Regions from separate parts of the Homo sapiens genome. Here region 2 is linked to region 1. Evidence: fine-mapped expression QTL. A gene starts in region 1. The other region holds a variant in brackets. All regions are shown on one strand. Distances are between the middles of the regions.

Region 1 (10,254 bases):
CCAAAGTGCTGGGATTACAGACGTGAGCCACTGCACTCAGCCCAGAGCCATGCTCTTGACCACAATGCTATTAACAGAAACTAGTTTATTACATTACCAAAAATTGTAATACAATTACACTGGGAGGATGGGAAGGAAGCATGTCAGGGGTGGGAGTATAGATTTTCCTATAATTCCTACAACAGAAGTCAATAGATGTCTAAAACTGATAAATCAATTAAAATCACTGTAAGCATATTATTTAGAAACATGGAGGTAAACACAAAACAGCTCAAAGAGTAGAAAGTGGTTACTTCCATGGAGCAGAACTTGGAGCAGGGGACTGCTATTTTCTTTTAAAAGCCTTTTGATATTATTGATACTTTGATACTTTAAAATCATGCACATATGTGATTTTAAATGTCCGAGATCACGTCGTTGCACTCCAGCCTGGGCAACAAGAGTGAAACTCCTTTGATAAAAAGTGATTTAAGAGGCCAGGCACGGTGGCTCACGCCTGTAATCCCAGTACTTTGGAAGGCCGAAGCGGGCAGATCATTTGAGGTCAGGAGTTTGAGACCAGCCTGGCCAACATGATGAAACCCCATCTCTAGTAAAAGTACAAAAATTAGCTGGGCATGGTGGCCCATGCCTGTAATCCCAGCTACTCGGGAGGCTGAGGCAGGAGAATTGCTTGAACCAGGGAGATGGAGGTTGCAGTGAGCCAAGATTGTGCCACCGCACCCCAGCCTGGGTGACAGAGTGAGACTCCATCCTCCCCCTCCCACCGCCCAAAAAAAAGGTGATTTAAGGCCAGGTGCAGTGGTGCACACCTGTAATCCCAGCACTTTGAGAGGCCGAGGCAGGAAGATTACTTTAAACCAGGAGTTCAAGACTAGCCTGGGCAACATAGTGAGAACCCATATCTACGAAAAATGAAAAATTAGCTAAACATGTTGAGTATGCCTGTGGTCCCAGCTACTTGGGAGGCTGAGGTGAAAGGATCCCTTGAGTCCAGGAGTTCAAGGCTGCAGTGAGCTATGATCACACCACTGCACTCCAGCCTGGGCAACAGAGTGAGACCCTGTCTCAAAAAAAAAAAAAAAAGTGATTTAAAGAAGGATGGAAAGAAGGAAGAGAGGGAAGGAGGGAAATGAAATCAGAGATCATCCATGGTAAAGTCTAATGTCATAGACATCTGTTCTTTTGCCACGCAGCTTCCATTCCCCTCCACTGATAACAACACTTGGGTCTTTGGAGAATCTCCTTCCATCACTGTAATCTGGGGGGGGCCTATCAGTCAAGGAACCCTGTCCTGCTCTGGACAACTGGGGGCCAAGGGACAATGGTACTCTCTCCCTGGAATCTTGAGCATAATGGTGCAGAGACCTAAAACAGCTGGAACCAATTCACCAATAGTAGTAAGCCTCCATCGTTCCACTTACCCAGGCCCCAGAACATCCTTGGTTAGGGCTTTCTAAGCTTTCCCTTAAATTCTGTGAACTGCTCTATTTCCTTCTAATAATTTCCTCATCTGCTTAGTTTAGCTGGAGTCATTCTCTGTTGTTTATAACCAAAGGAAGTTAATGGAAATATCTAGTAAAAAGGAGTTTGGTGTTTATTTGTTCTTTTATTTGCCAATATAACTTACCACAGTGGCTTGCAAAACTTTTCAATCTCAAAAACATATTTCACATCAAGACCCAGTAAACAAACACGTACATATATAATACACACACACACACACACACACACACACACACATATATATATAACTGAAATAAAAGTTCTACCAAAAATGTCTATCCTCACTAACACTCTAAGAGTGTTAATTCTATTTCTTTTTTAATACTGGTCTGACCTACTAAGTTGATCTCAGACCCACTACTGGTTATGGTCTGCAGTTCTGAAAAACACTGGCTCCTTGTACCTGCTGCATCTGCCTCCAACAATAAAAACATCCCAGAGAGTGTATTGGCCCTATGTCCATGTCCACATGTGATACGCTAAGGCACACTGCCTGGCTAGTGGGGAAACACCAACAGAGTCCCAGGGCCCTCACTCCCAGTAGGATCTCTAATCAGTTCAACTGTCTACATTCTGACTCCGGAAGAAACATCTGTTCATTTATTTATTGACTCACTTTGCACATGAATTGAGCACCCATTCAGTGGTGTGAATATATGACAGATTCCTGGGGGTTGTCCAGAGCCATAAATTCTGTCTGCAAGTTGGCTCAGAGAAGAGGAATCCAGGACAAGGCCTGTGTCCCGACTGTTCACCATCTCCTCCCCTCCCTTAAGGGCCCAGGAATGTCTCCAAGATCAGATCTGGGCAATGATTACTTCATTCCCAGCTCTGGAGTAAAATAAGTCTCAAGTTCAGCCTAGAAAAAAGGAATAAAAGGGAATTTCTGTCTCTCCCTTGCTCTAGAGGTCTCTGGTTAGCTTCAAACTAACCTATGATGGAGACCATCTGAATTCCTTGTCCATTATTTTCTCTTAGTAATTTTTTCTGCCCCACCAGACAAAGAGCAAAAACATCAAGAAAGAGTAAAAGGGGCCAGATGTAGTGGCTCATGCCTGTAATCCCAAGCCTTTGGGAGGCCAAGGTGGGCAGACTGCTTGAGCCCAGGAGTTCGAGACTAGCCTGGGCAACATGGTGAAATCCCATCTCTACCAACAGAAAAAAAAAAAAAAAATTTTAGTCAGGTGTGGTGGCATGTGCCTACAGTCTCAGCTACTTGGGGAGACTGAGGTAGGAGGATCTACTGAAACCAGGAGGTGGAGGTTGCAGTGAGCTGAGATCATGCCATTGCACTCCAGCCTGGGCAACAGAGCAAGGCCCTGTCTCAAAAAAAGAGAAAAGAAAAGAGAAAAGAAAAGAAAGGAAGAAAGAAAAAAAATAGTAGAGGTTAATGATTCATTAACACTGCCAGTGCCAACTTGGTCTTAGACTTCTTTCCGGATCTCTTTTCTATATAGCAAGCAAGCAAAAAGCAGCCCAAACATCCCTCTCCTTTATTTATCTCATACCCTTTTCCCTCAACTATTCCAAAAGAGAGAGCAAGAGCATGGAAGAGAAGCTATAGGTGGTGTGCATCTGAAGTCCCAGCTACTCAGGAGGCTGAGGCAGAAGGATTGAGGCCAGGAGTTCAAGGCTGTGGTGTGCTATGATTGCACCCGTGAAGAGCCACTGTACTGCAGCTCCGGCAACATAGCAAGACACTCGTCGCTTAAAAACAAAGAGCAGGGAGTAGGACTTGTGGCTGACACATAATGGATAGATTTCTTCCATCTCTTCAGAGTCTCATAGCTGGGGATGTGGCAGGCTACAGAAGAATGGGGTTTGGGCAACTGGGGTTGGCCAATAGCAACATCTGTATTTTAATGTGGCAAAAACACTCATAGCCCAGGCAGAAATGGAGAGGGGACTGGGAAAAGAACTAAATGACCATCTGTATTCTAAACCTGAAATGAGTTTGAAGAAGAGCCATAATCTAGCTGCAGTTGGGTTAGCTCTACCTCAAGAGCAGGATGAGGCAGGCAGAGAGTAAGGGAGTCAGATGTGGGAGGGGGGATGATACACAAGTTCCCCATCACCTTAGTTTTCATTTCACTCCCACCCACAATAGCTTGGAAATTGATGAAATAGTACACACCTAATCTGGGTTAAGTTCCCCAAAAGAGCCTAGAAACACTCAGCCACAAATTACCCTCCTCAGCCTCTGGAGAGGAAAAACCATATGGTCAGCTAGGGTGGGGAGAACTGGGACTGGGAGCCAGAGAAAGAGGAGAGAGGGGTAGACCAGCCTGCACTGGAGAACGCCCCCTTTCTCCGCAACCCTCTCCCCGTCCAGAAGCCTTCGCTTGGGTCACTTCCCTCCCCTTCTCGGCCCGGGTTCTGCATCCCCTTCCTCCACTATCCCAGGGCCTGGCGGCTGGAGACGGAAGCAAAACTAACACACCGTCCCAGGAAGCTATCGGCAGGCAGATAGAGGGAGGAAAACAAGAGAACTACAAGGGGGAAGAAGGAGAAATCCAAGACAAGAGGTGACCCCCGGGCGGAAAGCCCTATCCCTTAGCGAAAGGTAGAGTCCCTAGCCAATCTCGGAATAGTTTGAGTCCTACCGTCCCCTACTTGCCCCCCGCCCTCCAGTCCAAGCCCTGTAATTTACTCTACCATTTTTCTTGTTACTGATCATCCAAAGCACCATGATGAAATTCTTTGGAGGGCCTCGGAGGTCACCAGGACCCTCGACCCACGGGAAAGCCTAAGCCTCCTCGGCAGGACACAACGTCCAAAGGCGCTCAGGGACCCAGTCGCTTGAGCTCATTCTCTTATGACCCAATGTGGCTGCCCAAAAGACGCCTGAGACCCGCGGCCCAAGCACGGGCTCGCCGGCGCCGAGTCCCAGGCAGGAGCCGCAGTGTCCTACCAAAGGGCAGGGACGCCCCGAACCCTCCAGCCTCAAAGGAGTCTTCACCCCGCGACTCCCACTGCCCGTCGCAGGCAAAAGAATAAAAAGAGAGAAGCGCCGCGCAGGGCTGACCGCGCGAGCCGGGCACCAGGTGATGTCAGCCAACACGGCGCGGGGCACGGAAGGGGCGGACTTAGAAACCGGGAATACAAAACGGAGAAGACAGCGAGAGCGCTTTTTCTTACCGCCGCCTGGTCCTCTGGGTGCACGTCCACCAGGGTACACCAGTTCCGCGTCCCGTTCATCTTCCCTCGGGGTCGCAGCACACACGCCACTTGTCCACCCCGCTGTCTGGCTCCAACTGGGCGGGCGCGCGCGGAACCGCCCCCTTGTATAGGCCCATCAGGGGCGGGGCTGAAGATAGGCCGCGCCCCCAGTTCGCGGTTTCGCAGAGAACTAACGATAGGCGAGGAGGTGAGGTGGGCGGAGCCAATGGGTCTGGGACATGCCCCATCGGTGCTCGCATAGATTTACACAAAGGTGGGGCTTGGGAGCGACATGGGGCTGCTTTAACTGAACAGCTTTATCTGGAGTATGTGGTTGCACATTCTTCATTAATCTTGTCGCTTTCCATCTTTCCAAGATCAGTGTTGGTCAGAGGGAATCACCCTGCCTGCTCCTAGTGGATGAGGAGTTGGAACCTGCAAAAGCTTCCTTCCATACATGCTCCTCTCCCTATACGTAAGCCACCTGTAGGCTTTGTGGAGCTGAGTAAACCTTTCCTCCACCGCAGAAAGGCAGGCACCAAGGTCCAGCTCACTCAGACTGGCCTAAGCCAGTCTGGCAGGTGCACTTCCTTGGCAAGAGGCCCAGGAGGCCCAGTCAGCTTAGGCTCTGGGTGGGGCTTGTTTTGCAGAAGCTCTTTTACTGACGCTGCCCTTATATAGTTGGGAGAGGCGGGACACATTGCCTTAAAAGGAATTTGTGTTCGTGAGAAAGGATGAGCCTTGACTTTTCCAGTTGCATTTTCTCCCCAAGCCTAGGCTGGGATCTTGAGGGCCTAGAAGAGAGGGTTGGCCAAGCAGGACCCTGGAGCTTCGTCCCCGCCCAGCTGCTCTTGGCAGATGGCTTCTTCACTTGGCTGTGGTCCACAGAGACAGCAGACAGAATACTTTAGGAGGAGGTCTGACCCACTCCTGAAGGGATAGTACTCCTATACCTGGCAATAGGCTCTAGTGAAGGGCCAGCTCCCTCTTCAAGGCAACACTAGGGCAGGAACAGCAGAAATGTCCCTACCTCCCAGTTAGGGACTGGGTCCTATGTCAGTTAGGAATGAATGAGGATTTTTCTACCTGGGAAGTGAATGCTGGGGTTATCACTATGACCCAAGGGAATAAAACCCAGTTCTGGTCTGTTCTACTCTAACCCTCAAAAAGGCATTTACTGCTGGCCAGGCGCAGTGGCTTATGCCTGTAATCCCACCACTTTGGGAGGCCGAGGTGGGCGGATCACAAGGTCAGGAGTTTGAGACCAGCCTGACCAACACAGTGAAACGCCATCTCTACTAAAAATACAAAAATTAGCTGGGTGTGGAGGCACGCGCCTGTAATCCCAGCTACTCAGGAGGCTGAGGCAGGAGAATCGCTTGAACCCGGGAGGCAGAGGTTGCAGTGAGCTGAGATCATGCCATTACACTCCAGCCTGGGTGACAGAGTGAGACTCCGTCTCAAAAAAAAAAAAAAAAAAAAGGCATTTACTGTCCTTGTTCTTCCCAGAAGGTTGTTCAGGAGAGAAGAGAATGGGGCTGCTATAAACATCTCCAGGTTTCGTAGGTCCCATCTGCTCTGTTCTAAAGGGCCTCTGAAAAGTCAGGTGAAGAAAACTCCAGCTTCGGCTCCTAAGCTGTACAGTTAATATGACTTCATAAAATCTGGACCTCCAAATATGCCAAGAAAAAGAATGAGAAGACAAACCAAGGATTTCAATATAAATGTGTAATTTTAATATTTAATTTAAAATAAAACCAAGGCTGGATTGGATTGGGAAAGAACGTTTGATTTGCAGAAGAATATAGGAATTTTTTTAATCACGACATTACAAGTCATTTGTGAAAACAGCCTTCCTCCTGCCACCGGCTCCCTATACAACCTGCTTAGGAAATATGGAGGTGAATCATCCCCCTTACCTCTTCCCTACCAGGGCTTGGTTCTCCCCAAAATCCAAAGGAGAAATAAATGTCTTCCGTTGCCTCTTCCCATTTTTACAGTCAGCTTCTAACCCCTTGCAAAGCCCTGAATCAGAGCCAAGCACCTCAGAAAATGAGGGTCCCTTGGTTCTCTTATTGAAGTTGGGCACATGTGGTCAGAGAAGCCCCAAGGAAGGCCACAGGGACTGACACCTTTACTTTTGGAATTTGTGCAGCCAGTTGTCAGGGCTCCCAGGTGCAACCACCTTATAACCATATCCACAGTCACAGAGGAGGGAGAGGAGGAAGGATGAAAACCCTGAGCAGGACCAGACCCCCGCCACTTTATCATGACCCTACCAAAGTCCCTCTCCCAGGGGTCATTGGCAGAGAAACCCCAACAGCTCTCTCAATCAATCACTGGGGCAGCAGGGAAGGCTGAGGGCCCTGGCTGGGGAAAAGCTGGTCTTTGGAGAGGTATGAATGTGCAGATATAAAAAGCAAGAAGAGCATCCTTATCTCCTTGCCTTGGCTAAGGCACTGACAGGAAAAATGCAAGGTAGGAATGGCAAAGAGGGGAAAGGAAGAAGACAAAAATATAGGAACTGGAGGGGTATGGGGACTACCACATGGGCCCCATACTTGTGCAAAGAAATGGGTAGAGCCATGCCTGCATGTCTGTTACCCATAACATTCCCCTCACCCTGCTCCAGAGTGGAAGGAAAATGAGTTGCAGGAATCCAGGGAGCACAATAACATAGGGTATTTCCCTGAGCCTTAGGGTTAAGGGCTAAAGAATAAAGCTTTATACACATGGCAATTTCTATCCCTTCCTATCCTTCTCAGTCCCCATCAGCCTAATGCTGACCATCCTTCCACTATAAGAGAGATGAGGGAGGTGTCGGCACTTGAGGAAAAGGCTCAGTTGGCTTGAAATGTCCACTCCTACAGTGGAAAGTCCATCTATCAGCTTATTGCTGATGATTTTTTTTTTTTATCACCATCACTCTGACCCCTCCCTGTCTTAGGTCTGAATAATTGGGTCACCCATAGGAATGCAGAACCCAGGGTGGGCAGAGCAGAGCAGCACTTGCTGGGATAGGCCTCGAGCCTGGTTTCTGAGTCCTTGAGGACCACGAGCTAACAGGAGCTGGTCTGTAGGTTGCTCTCCGTAAGCAGTGATGCAATGGACGAGGGATCGTAGACACTGTCGAATTCCTCATCTGAGCTCAGCCCTTCGTTTTTGAGAGCTGACTCAGCAGCTGAGCGGGAAGCTTTGCGCCTGACTCAGAGAGAAGAATAATGGTTGGGGAGGGGAAAATAGAAATATTAAGACAGCCACCCTTTTTGTACAAAGGAAACCCCAATTCTTCTAAGGCCTAAAGTTTATTCACAAAATCCCCAACTAATCAGATTTGGGGAGGTACAGGATGGTGGCTGAGATACTAATAAATAAATATACTGGCTTCCAACCAGAAACAAGTGACTACACAGTACCATGTTAGAGATTCTCCTCCTTATCCAGCACAGGAGAGACCATTCCCTCCCTGCTCTAGTGTCCCTATGGAGCAAGGGCAAAAGGGTAGCCCATACCAGGAGTCCTTCTCCAGAGACTTGATCCGGGCCTGGAGCTGTTCATTGACCTCATGCTGCTCCTCCACCTCACGCTGGGCCTTCTTCCTCAGGCCGTCCAGTCGCTCAATTTCCTCTTCTGCTTCATCCACCTGACGCTTCAAAGCCTTCACCCTCAGGCTTAGCTGGGCAGGATACCAAGTCCACACATCTGAATAGCATCTACTACCATGGCCTGGGACCCTCCCCCATAACAATCTTGACAAGGTATAATTGCCGCTGGAAAAATGTGGCCTTGGGCAAGTTCCTTAACCTCACATGGTTGTCTTAGGGATTAAATGTATTAACACATGTGTAATACTTACAGAACCTAGCACATCATAAGCACTCAATATATACGCTTACCATGACTTCTCTAGTCTAGTCTTTTCAATCTAATCTCTGTCCTTATACAAGGAAAGTCTAAGTTTGGAGGACCTATAGGAGATAAGGGCCTCCCTTGGCTTTCAGGAAAACATATAATATATACCTGCCCCAGGTTGCTTGGCTCCAGGGTGCCATGTCCTCACCTGGTCTTTCTGGTCATTGACATGCTGCCGCTCGTCTTCAATCTGGATGGATAGTTCTTTAACTTTCCGCTCCAGTTTTCGATTGGTAGACTGCAGAACTGTCTTCTCCCTAAGGTGAGGTAGAAGAATGTCTATGAGTGTCCCCATTTCTAAGGGAATCCTAACTTGGCCCCCTACTGTCCCCAAGGACTCCTCTCAGCCATGAGCTCCACCATTAGACTGGGCAGGATCCAGGGCAGATTCAAAGAATGAGGGAGAGTGACGTCATTCACATTTCAGAATTTCTGCAACACTCTTTGCTCTCTATCAGGAGAAAGTGTTCCCTAAAGATCAGGCCAGGCTGGCCATATCTGAGGTGGAAGATGGAGGGAGCCACAGAGGAGAAAAGCCAAGAGGGAGGGAGGAAGAAAAGGAGGGAGGAAGGGAGGAAGGATAGGCTTATGTCACCTCTCTTCAGCCTGTAGCCGCTCCTGCAACAACTGATTCTGGGACTCAAGCTGAGAGAGGCTGGCACTAGGCTTCTGGAAGCCTTCTGAGCTGGCCAACCGGGTCTTCAGGTCCTTGTTCTGAGAGGGACAGGAAGCCTCCACAGTTAGCACTCCACTGGCCATTTTACTCACCTCCTGGGGTCCATCCCTAAGAATCCTCCCCTCCCCCATCACCTGTCTCTCCAAGGAGATTTTGTCACACTCCAGGTCCTGCCGAGCAGACCTTTCCTGCATGAGCTCTGTCCTCAGCTGATCCACCTAGTGGGGATGGGTGAGAGGACCAGACTTGGGGAGGGCTAAGGATGAACCAGCAAGCTGAACAAAGTGAGGCTGAGTCATGGGAGGATGGTCTCTGAACCCTGAATCCAAAAATTCCCAGGCAACTAAAAAATCACAGCCTATTCAAATGGGAGGGGCCAGAGAATGCAAACAGAGCCTCCTTCGTCCCTCCAGGAACTAGTATCCCTTGTAAACCAAAGAAGCCCCAATTCAGGTCAGAGAACAGCCCAGGCCACCAGGATCCCTTCCTCCATGCAAATCATTGGCTTCTTTCCACCCAAGGAAACTGGCCAACCTTTCCCAAAGCAGACAAAACCCTGAAGGAGACCCAGCCACGCACAGATTCGGCAGCCAGATGATGAAAGATGGGAGGGTAGAGTTGTTTTTGAGAGAACCAAGAGGTGATGCAGTCAGGGGTAAACAGAGATGAGGGGTGGGGGCGGTTACCTGGTCCCGGCCACGATTCACCCGATCTGTTAGCAGCTCCACGGTGTTCTTCTCCTCATCTAACTCTGTTTCCAGCCGTGAGACTTTTTCCTAGGACAGAAGAACAAGTAATTCTGTCCCAAATGCTGGACACCAGAATGCCAAACTCAGACCAGGAGCCTCTCAAACTCCAGCATTAACAGACTTTTCTCTCTTGCACATCCCAGTAACCTTTTGGTACTTGCCTGGACCCAGAGCCACTATGGAGCCAGCGCCCTCTACTGACCAGATGTGGCATCATGGGCAGGTCGGGGCCATGCTCTGGTGACGGCCCTT
Region 2 (9,151 bases), 21 kb before region 1:
GGAATACATGCAGCTGCCTGCCACAAACAAAGAGCTTCCCTTGCCCCCAGGGATCCTGATAAAGTTTGACAAAGCAAAAATTACAAAGGGAAGATCTTTTTCAATTATTTCTGACCCAAAGCCTGATTATTCATCATATGACAGCCGGTTTGTGCAAACAAGGGGGCTGGACTTTGGGCCAGTCTCTGCACACATTAGGTTCTTCTGATACCTGACAAAGTAGCTCCCACCAGCCAGATGTGAGCTCAAGCACTGAAAGACCTACCTTCAGCCAAAGCAAAAATTAGGTAATTTCCACCACACAAGTGCATGCCCAAGACAAAGAACTTTCCTTGCACCAGCTGCTGGGCCACTGTTCCCCTCAAGGGAATGAAGGCAGGGGCTGCTGCTGGAGCAAGACTCTGCCTGAACCAAAATGCAAATCAAGGATACAACTCAGAATCTAAAGGATGAGGGCGAAGTCACAAAGAGACAGCTCTGCTCTCCTGAGGACATTTCTGTCCTCGAGTTTTGGAAAAACTGAAAAGCAGGATCCCAGGATTATCCCTCCCAGGAAAGACTTACCCAATCTGTTCAGTCTAACAAACATTTACTGATGCCTTCTACATCCCAGACCTGGGGGGAATGGGAGGGTGAGGATACAGACACGAGGTGGGGTGGGGTGGGGTGAACTCCTAACCTTGAGGAACTTCCCATCCCAGGTTAGACATAACTATATACAAGATTAATAACAGGCTAGGGCACGGACTTCAATTTACGCTACAGGTATCACCCAAACTAAGCAAGATCAGCTTATGAGAAGTGTGGATTTACAGGTGATTGTCTGCTTTACAAAATTCTATTATTATAAGAAGCTTGATCACAGAATCCTTATAGATAAGAGGTTTGCTAACAACTGATGATATTTAATTTATATAAGTTCAATTTCTGTACAGTGTTTCAGGAGCAGGTGTACTTATGTTTAAGCTGACATGTGTAAATGTAAGTGCTCATCGGCTGGAGAGTCCTAACCAGATTGTGAGTGCTCCAGAGAAGCCAGCATCACCTCTATTTTCTCCATTCCTGGCAGGGATGCTAGATTTAGCACACACTGGGTAATTGGTAAATGAGACTGCCTGGCACAACCCCACCTCCTCGGTGGGGACCCAACCATGGACCATTTCCTATTACCTGTATCTCCTGTCGATGGAGAGAATCTCCTAGGTTCCTGTCAAGCTTGCTACTTATATCCTCCCGGAGCTTCTGTAGGCAGTTCCTGGCCTGGGAGGGGAGGGGAAGAAACTTGAGCTTTAGGGTAGAGAAAGAGAGCATGCCAACTCACCCAACTCTGTGCCCCATCCCTGGCCTGTACTGCGAGTCAGGCACTGTCCTAACGACTGGCTGCAGGATGGAGGGAGGGACCTTGGTCAAGTGGAGCTACAGCTGACATTCTTGTTGGGGAGACACAAGACACAAAAGACAAATAAGTAAAATGTGTAATATGTTATATGGGCATAAGTGCCAACGAGAAACACGAGCCAGGAAGGGAGTTAAGAAATGCTGTGAAAAGTGGCTGGTAATTTTCGATAGGTGGCTGGGACAGTGCTGGGCCCATAGTACTTAAGTATTTGTGGATTAATGGATCAGGTATGGTCAAAAGTTATATATTTGACACACGGGAGGGCATGGTGGCATTTCAGAGACATAAAGGAAAAAGAAGGGGAAAAACCAGAATCCACAAAAGAAGACAGTCACAAAAAATGTGAGATTTAGAGAAATGACCTAGGCACTGCGTGAGAGGTAAGGGGTGCCCACCTCCTGGATGTACTGGACCTCACTCTTCAGCTGGTTAATATTCTTCTCGTGAATCATCTTGTCTCCAGACCTCCCCTTCAAGTACACCTGAAATAAGAACACCATTTAGTTAAGAAACCTCAAATTAAATTAACTATACAAAAATAGGCAGCTTCATATAGTGCTGGTGGGAGGGTAAATTGTTACCACCAATTTACTGGGTGGAATTTGGTGATTCGGATCAGAAGACCTAAAAATATATTTACTTTTTGGTCTATCAGTTCTACTTCTGGAAATTTACCCTAATGCAATAAATTTAGCTCAATGCTATATAGCTGTATTGGCATAAACACTCACATATATACAGTCATGCATCACTTAATCATAGGAATACATTCTGAGGGATGCATCATTAGGCAATTTCATCCTTGTACAAACATCACAGAGTGTACACACACAAACCTAGATGGCATGGCCTCCTACACCCCTAGGCTGTATGGTGTACCCTATTGCTCCTAGGCTACAAACAAACCTGCACAGCATGTTACTGTACTGAATACTGTAGGTGATCGTCACACAATGGTAATGTATCTAAACCCAGAAAAAATACAGTAAAAATGGAGTATAATAATCTTATGGGACCACTGTTGTCTACGCAGTCCATCACTGACCAAAACGTTGTTATGCAGTTTTGTTATGCACTGACCAAAACTGTAACTGAGTCAATCATGTGGTATGGGATTTATATCTAAAAAAGCTGTTTTATAAAAAAAAAGAGAGAGAGAAATAACAAAAATCATTTTATTTTTTAAAAAATAAGTTCCATCAGCCAGGTGGGCTGGTGCACGCCTATAATACCAGCATTTTGGGAGGCTGAGACAGGACGATTGCTCGAGCCCAGGATTTGGAGACCAGCCCAGGGAACAAGGCGAGACTGTCTCTACAAAACTAAAAATATATAAATAAATAAATAAGTTCCATCAGGATGAACCCATTATAGGAAAACATAAGTTCCATAAACACACCTCCTACCTGTCTCCACAACCTCTAGCAGCAAAACATGGTCAGTGGATAGGCCCCTAGTAAGGTCATCCAGTCCATCCCCTTGCCTGGGGCCAGGCTGCACCAAAGTTGCTAACAGGCAGACTGTAGTCTCCTGGTATTAATTAAGATATTTCTAGGAGATTGCCAGGAACTAGCAGCTCAGGTCTGGTTCCTTCCATCAAACCACAAGCTCCCTTTGGCAACAACATCAACTGCTCCTTCTCATATACGTGCAGGGAGGAAGAGGACAGGGAGAAAAGTTGGAGGTGAACTAAGCTTACCTTAATGATCTCCTCATGTCCATCATGGGACTCCACCAGTTCTGAAGCCAGAGAATGACCAGCTGAGTGGCTGGACACCATGGCATAGGTCTTCCTGCCCGCCTGGCCAAAGAGAGATGAGAGAGAGAGAGAGAGAGAGAGATGGCTCAGACACCACATGGCAAGCCCAGAACTCCTGCCCCTCAGCTAATGCAGAAGACCTGTTTCTCAAAAGACTTGAAGGATTAGTCTGACTTTCCTCTCCAAAAATTCGTTTCCGAACTTCTAACAGAAGCCACACAGCAGCAAGAACACCGGCCAGGGAGAATGGACAGAAGTAGCAGTTTAGTTTTAATTTTAGTGGGGGACTCCTCCTGCCCCAAAGCAGTGCAGAAGGCTGAGGCAAGCTGGATGTTGCTGAAAGGAGGGGCTCCCACGCTCGCATCACCAGAGTCGGCTCCAGGCAGTACTTGGGTAAGAGGCCAGCAGCAAGGAAGCACTGGTGTGGGGAGGGGGCCTTGCCCACCAGAATTCCGCAGTACCTTCTGGGCTATGTGTTCAAGTTCATCTCCTGTCAGTTCACCCTGGAGAGTCAGCCTGAGAATGTCCACGCTGCCCTAATAATGACAATGACAGCAACAATAACCCCTCAACTTTACAGTCTACAGGTACAAACTGCTACCAGTACAGGGGTGCTTCTGCCAGCTCTGTGGAGCGGGTCTTATCATCACCACTTCACAGACTAGGAAAACTGAAGTCCAGGGAGGCAGCATTACCTTGCCCAAGATCAGGTGTTTGGGGTGGTGACTCTGGGACCACCCAACAGTTTTTTCTTTCACAACAAAGATTACCTGGCACATGGCTCTGTAGAGCTCCAGCAGGGCTACCCTGGTTCTTGGACTACAGGGAACACATTGCATGCATTCTTCTTTCTCTAGTTGTAGAGAGGTCATTCCTGGACTGCTCATCCTCAATCCAGAATTTCTGCTCCTGACAACCAGCCAGCAAGTTATTGATGCACTTTACAAGACTAGCATATTCTTCCTGAACTAAACTATAGGAAAGTACCTGAATTCAAACTCCCATTTCTATGAGCCACATGGAAATTATCCAAGTGAAAACAGGCAAGATAATAGGTATTCATCTAGAGATCAACCTAATTTCAAAGAATGAAGCAGGTTTTCTTTCATAAGTCAAAGAAGTGTGTGTGTGTGTGTGTGTGTGTGTGTGTGTGCG[C/T]GCGCGCGCGCATGACTGCAGCCTCAACCTCCCAGGCTTAAGTGATCCACCCACCTCAGCCTCCCAAGTAGCTGGGACTACAGGCGCACCAATATGCCCATCTAATTTTTGTATTTTTTGTAGACATGAGGTTTTGCCATGTTGCCCGGGCTTCAAAGAAGATTTTTTTAAAAAGGCCGGGCACGGTGGCTCACGCCTGTAATCCCAGCACTTTGGGAGGCCAAGGCAGGTGGATCACGAGGTCAGGAGATCGAGACCATCCTGGCTAACACAGTGAAACCCCGTCTCTACTAAAAAATACAAAAACAAAATCAGCCTGGCGTGGTGGCAGGCGCCTGTAGTCCCAGCTACTCGGGAGGCTGAGGCAGCAGAATGGCGTGAACCCGGGAGGCGGAGCTTGTAGTGAGCCAAGATTGTGCCACTGCACTCCAGCCTGGGTGACAGAGCAAGACTCCGTCTCAAACACTCACACACACACACACACACACACACACACACACACACACACACACACAATACTTTGCAGGGAAAATTAAAAACCTGAAAGGAAAAACGTGGTAGGAGGGAAAAGTAAGGGCCTGTAGATTGGGAAGATGATAACGTTGAGAGAAGGCTAACAAGGCAGAGTAAATCACCTGCACTATGCATGGAAGTGAATGAGGGGCTTAGCCACTATGGATCTCTGGTTCCCACTGGAAAAATAAGGAAGTTGGACCAAGTATATCTCAGGCTCCTTCTGGATTCCATTCTGTGACAGCGTGAGGATGGAGTATATGCCTCTCCCAGACAATGAAGAGAAATAGGTGCTGGGCTATCCAAGAATGAAAGTGATCTTGAGGTCATCTGGTCATCCCCTGCCTTGAGGCCCAGCTGCATAAATGACATCTTACTGGTAACAGGTTTTAAGGAACCCTCTTAACCTTCCAAATGTCTAGAGAAGATAACGTTCCAACTTGGTGGAGAAGAAATCAGTCTTTGGTGAGATACTTAACTCTTGATGTTTTTATCTGTAAAAGGGGTATATTACCATCCAACTGAGGGTTTTTTGTTTGTTTGAGATGGAGTCTTGCTCTTGTCTCCCAGGCTGGAGTGCAGTGACACGATCTTGGCTCACTGCAGCCTCCGTCTCCTGGGCTCAAGCAATTCTCCTGCCTCAGCCTCCCAAGTAGCTGGGATTACAGGCATCTGCCACCACACCTGGCTAATTTTTGTATTTTTAGTAGAGACGGGGTTTCGCCACATTGGCCAGGCTGGTCTCGAACTCCTGACTTTGTGATCCTCCCGCCTCAGCCTCCCAAAGCGCTGGGATTACAGGCGTGAGCCACCGCACCCGGCCCCCAACTGAGGGTTTTTTTGTTGAATATTACTTAAAAATATTGCCGGTGTGCTGGCTCATGCCTGTAATCCCAGCACTTTGGGAGGCCGAGGTGGGAGGATCACCTGAGGTCAGGAGTTCGAGACCAGCCTGGCCAACATGGTGAAACCCCATCTCTACCAAAAATACAAAAAAATTAGCCAGGCGTGGTGGTGGGCGCCTGTAATCCCAGCTGCTCAGGAGACTGAGGCAGGAGAATCGCTTGAACCAGGGAGGCGGAGGTTAAAGTGAGCTGAGATCGCGCCACTGCACTCCAGCCTGGACGACAGAGTGAGATGCTGTCTCAAAAAGAAAAAGAAAATGAGAAAATGTATGGAGGTTACTCTCTGCCACACAGGAGGGTGGCACTGAAACATCAGCATCCTCCCACTTTTTGGATTGGGAAGACAGAAGACACTGTCACAATGGCCCTTAAACCTTCCCAACCCTAGCAAAGTAGCTGGTTTTATGAAAACACTTAATTCCTATGAAATAAAAGCCACATCCTTAGAGTGGCATGCAAGGCTTTCCACAGTCTGGGTAAACTCACACCTCTTGCTACCATCTCTCAGTGCCCTATCCAATACATTCCATGGTTTCCAACTTCAGTGCCTTTGCTCCCATCATTTCCTGTGCCTTAAATATCTATTCTTCCCATTTTCACCTAAGGCGTCTCCAAGTTCCTCAAGTTCATGTTCAAATGCCTCATCTTCCAAGATGCTACCCCGCATCCTGTGGGAAACACATCTTCCCCTCCTTGAGCTCCCACAGCGTCACAAGGCCTCCCATGGCATCTGCCTCTCAGTTATTTGTGTTTTGTGAAGAATTACCCCTTCTGTTAACTCCTCAAGAGCTGTTGTATGCCACAGCCCTTAGCAAAGGTATTTTCTGAATGCACAGAGAATGCTCCATGACATCTAGGTCAAGAAAATATTACAAAAGAAAAAAGAGGAAATGATTTCAAAATAGCCAGAATGGCTGCCAAATTCTTCCTTCCCAGGACATACCTGCACTTTTATTAAAACAGTATCTCGACCAGGGGCAGTGGCTCATGCCTGTAAACCCAGCACTTTAGGAGGCCAAGGTGGGTGGATCACCTGAGGTCAGGAGTTTGAGACCAGCCTGGCCAACATGGTGAAACCCCGTCTCTACTGAAAATATAAAACTCAGCTGGCTGTGGTGGCAGGCACCTGTAATCCCAGCTACTAGGGAGGCTGAGGCAGGAGAATCGCTTGAACCTAGGAGGTGGAGGTTCCAGGGAGCCAAGATCATACCACTGCACTCCCGCCTGGGCAACAGAGCAAGACTCCGTCTCAAAAAGAAAAAAAAAAAAAAAGGACACTATCTCCCCATAGTGTTCTATGGAGGCAGGCTGGGAAAAGGCAGGGCATCCTTCAGTCAGAACAAAGGGGTTATTAGCTAATGAAGGTCAAGTCTGGTCTGTTTCATAAACCTACGCATTCCAATTGGAAGAGCATAGACAACTAGGCTGGGTTGGGGCACTGAGAGATGATTCCATCCAGCCATCAGAATTCCAGGTAGAGAGGAGAAAGAGGGTCAGTTGAAAATGTTCTCAAAGAAATAATGACCAAAAATTTTCAAAATTTGGCAAAAGACACAAATCTATAGATTCAAGAAGCCAAGCAAACTTCAAACAGAATAAACATGAAATTCATGCCATGATAGATCATAATTAAATTTCTGATAACTAAAGACAAAGAAAAAGTCTTGAAAGCAGAGAAAATAACCTTTGAGGGGATCCCTCAAAGGTTATTTTCTCTTCGGAAATGACAGAGAGTAGAAGGAAGTGGCATACTATTTTTCAAATGCTGAAAGAGAAGAACGGTCAATTCAGAATTGACAAAGGAAAATATCCTGTAACAAAGGAAAATATCCTTCAGAAATGAGGGGGAAATCAAGACATTCTCAGATGAAGGAAAACTAAGAGAATTTCTCACCAGCAGACCTACACTAAAAGAATGGCTTAAAAAGTTCTCTAAACAGAAAGGAAATTATTTTTTAAAAAAAGGAAACTTGAAATAATGGGAAGAAAGAAACATGAGTTGAAAAAAGATGGGTAAATACAACAAGATTTCCTTCCCCTCTTAGGTTTTCTTTTTTTTTTTTTAAGTTTTTTTGCTGTAAGTTTATTCAATGCAAAATAATCCTCTCCAATTTTACTGAGGTGGCTGACCACATCCTCAACCAAATCCACCTCTAAACTGGAATTCGGTTGCTGACCCAGCCCCAGCCTCAGCTTTGCTGTCGGCACCAGGCGGCACAGCACTCCGTCTGTAGGTTATCTCTGTCCGCTTTCCCTCTTGTGAGTCTTGCAGGTCGCTCACCCTTCAGACCTTTAGGCTGAGGACTTCCAGTCTCTGGACGGCTGCAGCATAGAGTGGCAGGCACAATCTCCGGGGCAGATGAAGGTAATCACGGAGATACTGGATGCCCTCATTGGTAACGTACCAGTGGAAATGTCTCCAGGCAAACTGTTCCTTCACGTAGCCTCGGGACTTGAGAGGCTGCATGGCCTTCATGACATGAAGATTGGGCACATCCTTGTCTGCCAGCTCCCGGTGCTTAGGCATGTGGACATCCTTCTTGGCCACCATGACTCCCTCCTTAAAAAGGAGTTCATAAATGGCAATCCGGTTCTTAGGCATCAACATCTCGGTGGCTGTAGGGGCCGGGGCTGGGGCTGGAAAGCCCCTCTTAGGTTTTCTAAGTTACATTTGATGATTAAAGCAAAAAGTATAACAATGTCTGATGTGGTTCTAAATGTATGCAGAGAAAATATTTAAATATGATAATATTATACTATTAAATATTTAGTATCATAAATGGGAGAAGGTAAAGGGATGTAAAGGAAGGAAAGGTTTCTCTTCTTCACTCAAACTAGTAAAATGCCAACACCAGGAGACTGTGATAACCTATGTATACATAATGTATAATACCTAGAGTAACCACTAAAAAGTCTATACAAAGAGATAACACTCAAAAACATTATAAATGAATAAAAATGGAATCCTAAAAAGTGTTCAGTTAATCCACAGGAAGGCAGGAAAAAGAAAACAGATAAATGAAAAACAGAACCGGGCATCATAGCTCACATCTGTAATCTCAGCATTTTGTTTGGTTTTTGAGACTAATTCTGTTTCTGTCACCCAGGCTGGAGTACAGTGACGCAATCTCGGCTCACTGCAACCTCTGCCTCCCAGGTTCAAGCAATTCTCCTACCTCAGCCTCCCACGTAACTGAACTGGGATTACAAGCTCCCGTGACAATGCCTGGCTAATTTTTATATGTTAATATAGAGGGGGCTTCACCATGTTGGCCAGGCTGGTCTCGAACTCCTGACCTCAAGTGATCCATCTGCCTTGGTCTCCCAAAGTGCTGGGATTACAGGCGTGAGTCACTGTGTCCGGCCTGTAATCTCAGCATTTTGGGAGGCCAAGGTGGGAGGATTGCTTGAGGCCAGGAG

Direction of the effects. Alleles are on the strand shown, and positions count from the first base shown. SD is a standard deviation of normalised expression in the study named.
With allele C in place of T in region 2, the expression in iPS cells of the gene that starts at base 4,762 in region 1 is lower (moderate effect, 0.72 SD a copy in HipSci).

The links. PIP is the estimated chance that this variant, and not a neighbour inherited with it, causes the effect.
Region 2: its variant is fine-mapped to the expression of TUFT1 in iPS cells (HipSci, PIP 0.92).

What each region holds. Positions count from the first base shown.
Region 1 is chr1:151,534,817-151,545,070 of GRCh38, reverse strand. It overlaps TUFT1 (tuftelin 1), which reads right to left and starts at 4,762. Exons shown (of 13, transcript NM_020127.3): 1 at 4,645-4,762. The coding sequence starts at 4,704. It overlaps CGN (cingulin), which reads right to left. Exons shown (of 21, transcript NM_020770.3): 16 at 9,940-10,029; 17 at 9,388-9,471; 18 at 9,173-9,291; 19 at 8,726-8,834; 20 at 8,178-8,341; 21 at 6,379-7,866. The coding sequence ends at 7,725. RefSeq lists enhancers at 3,955-4,469, 4,470-4,985, 5,501-6,017.
Region 2 is chr1:151,556,634-151,565,784 of GRCh38, reverse strand. It overlaps TUFT1 (tuftelin 1), which reads right to left. Exons shown (of 13, transcript NM_020127.3): 2 at 3,620-3,694; 3 at 3,099-3,200; 4 at 1,795-1,881; 5 at 1,171-1,260. It also overlaps the pseudogene RPS10P6. Among named protein-coding and RNA genes, the nearest start is that of MIR554, 15 kb to the right of the region's middle. The variant C/T (reference allele first, on the strand shown) is at 4,314.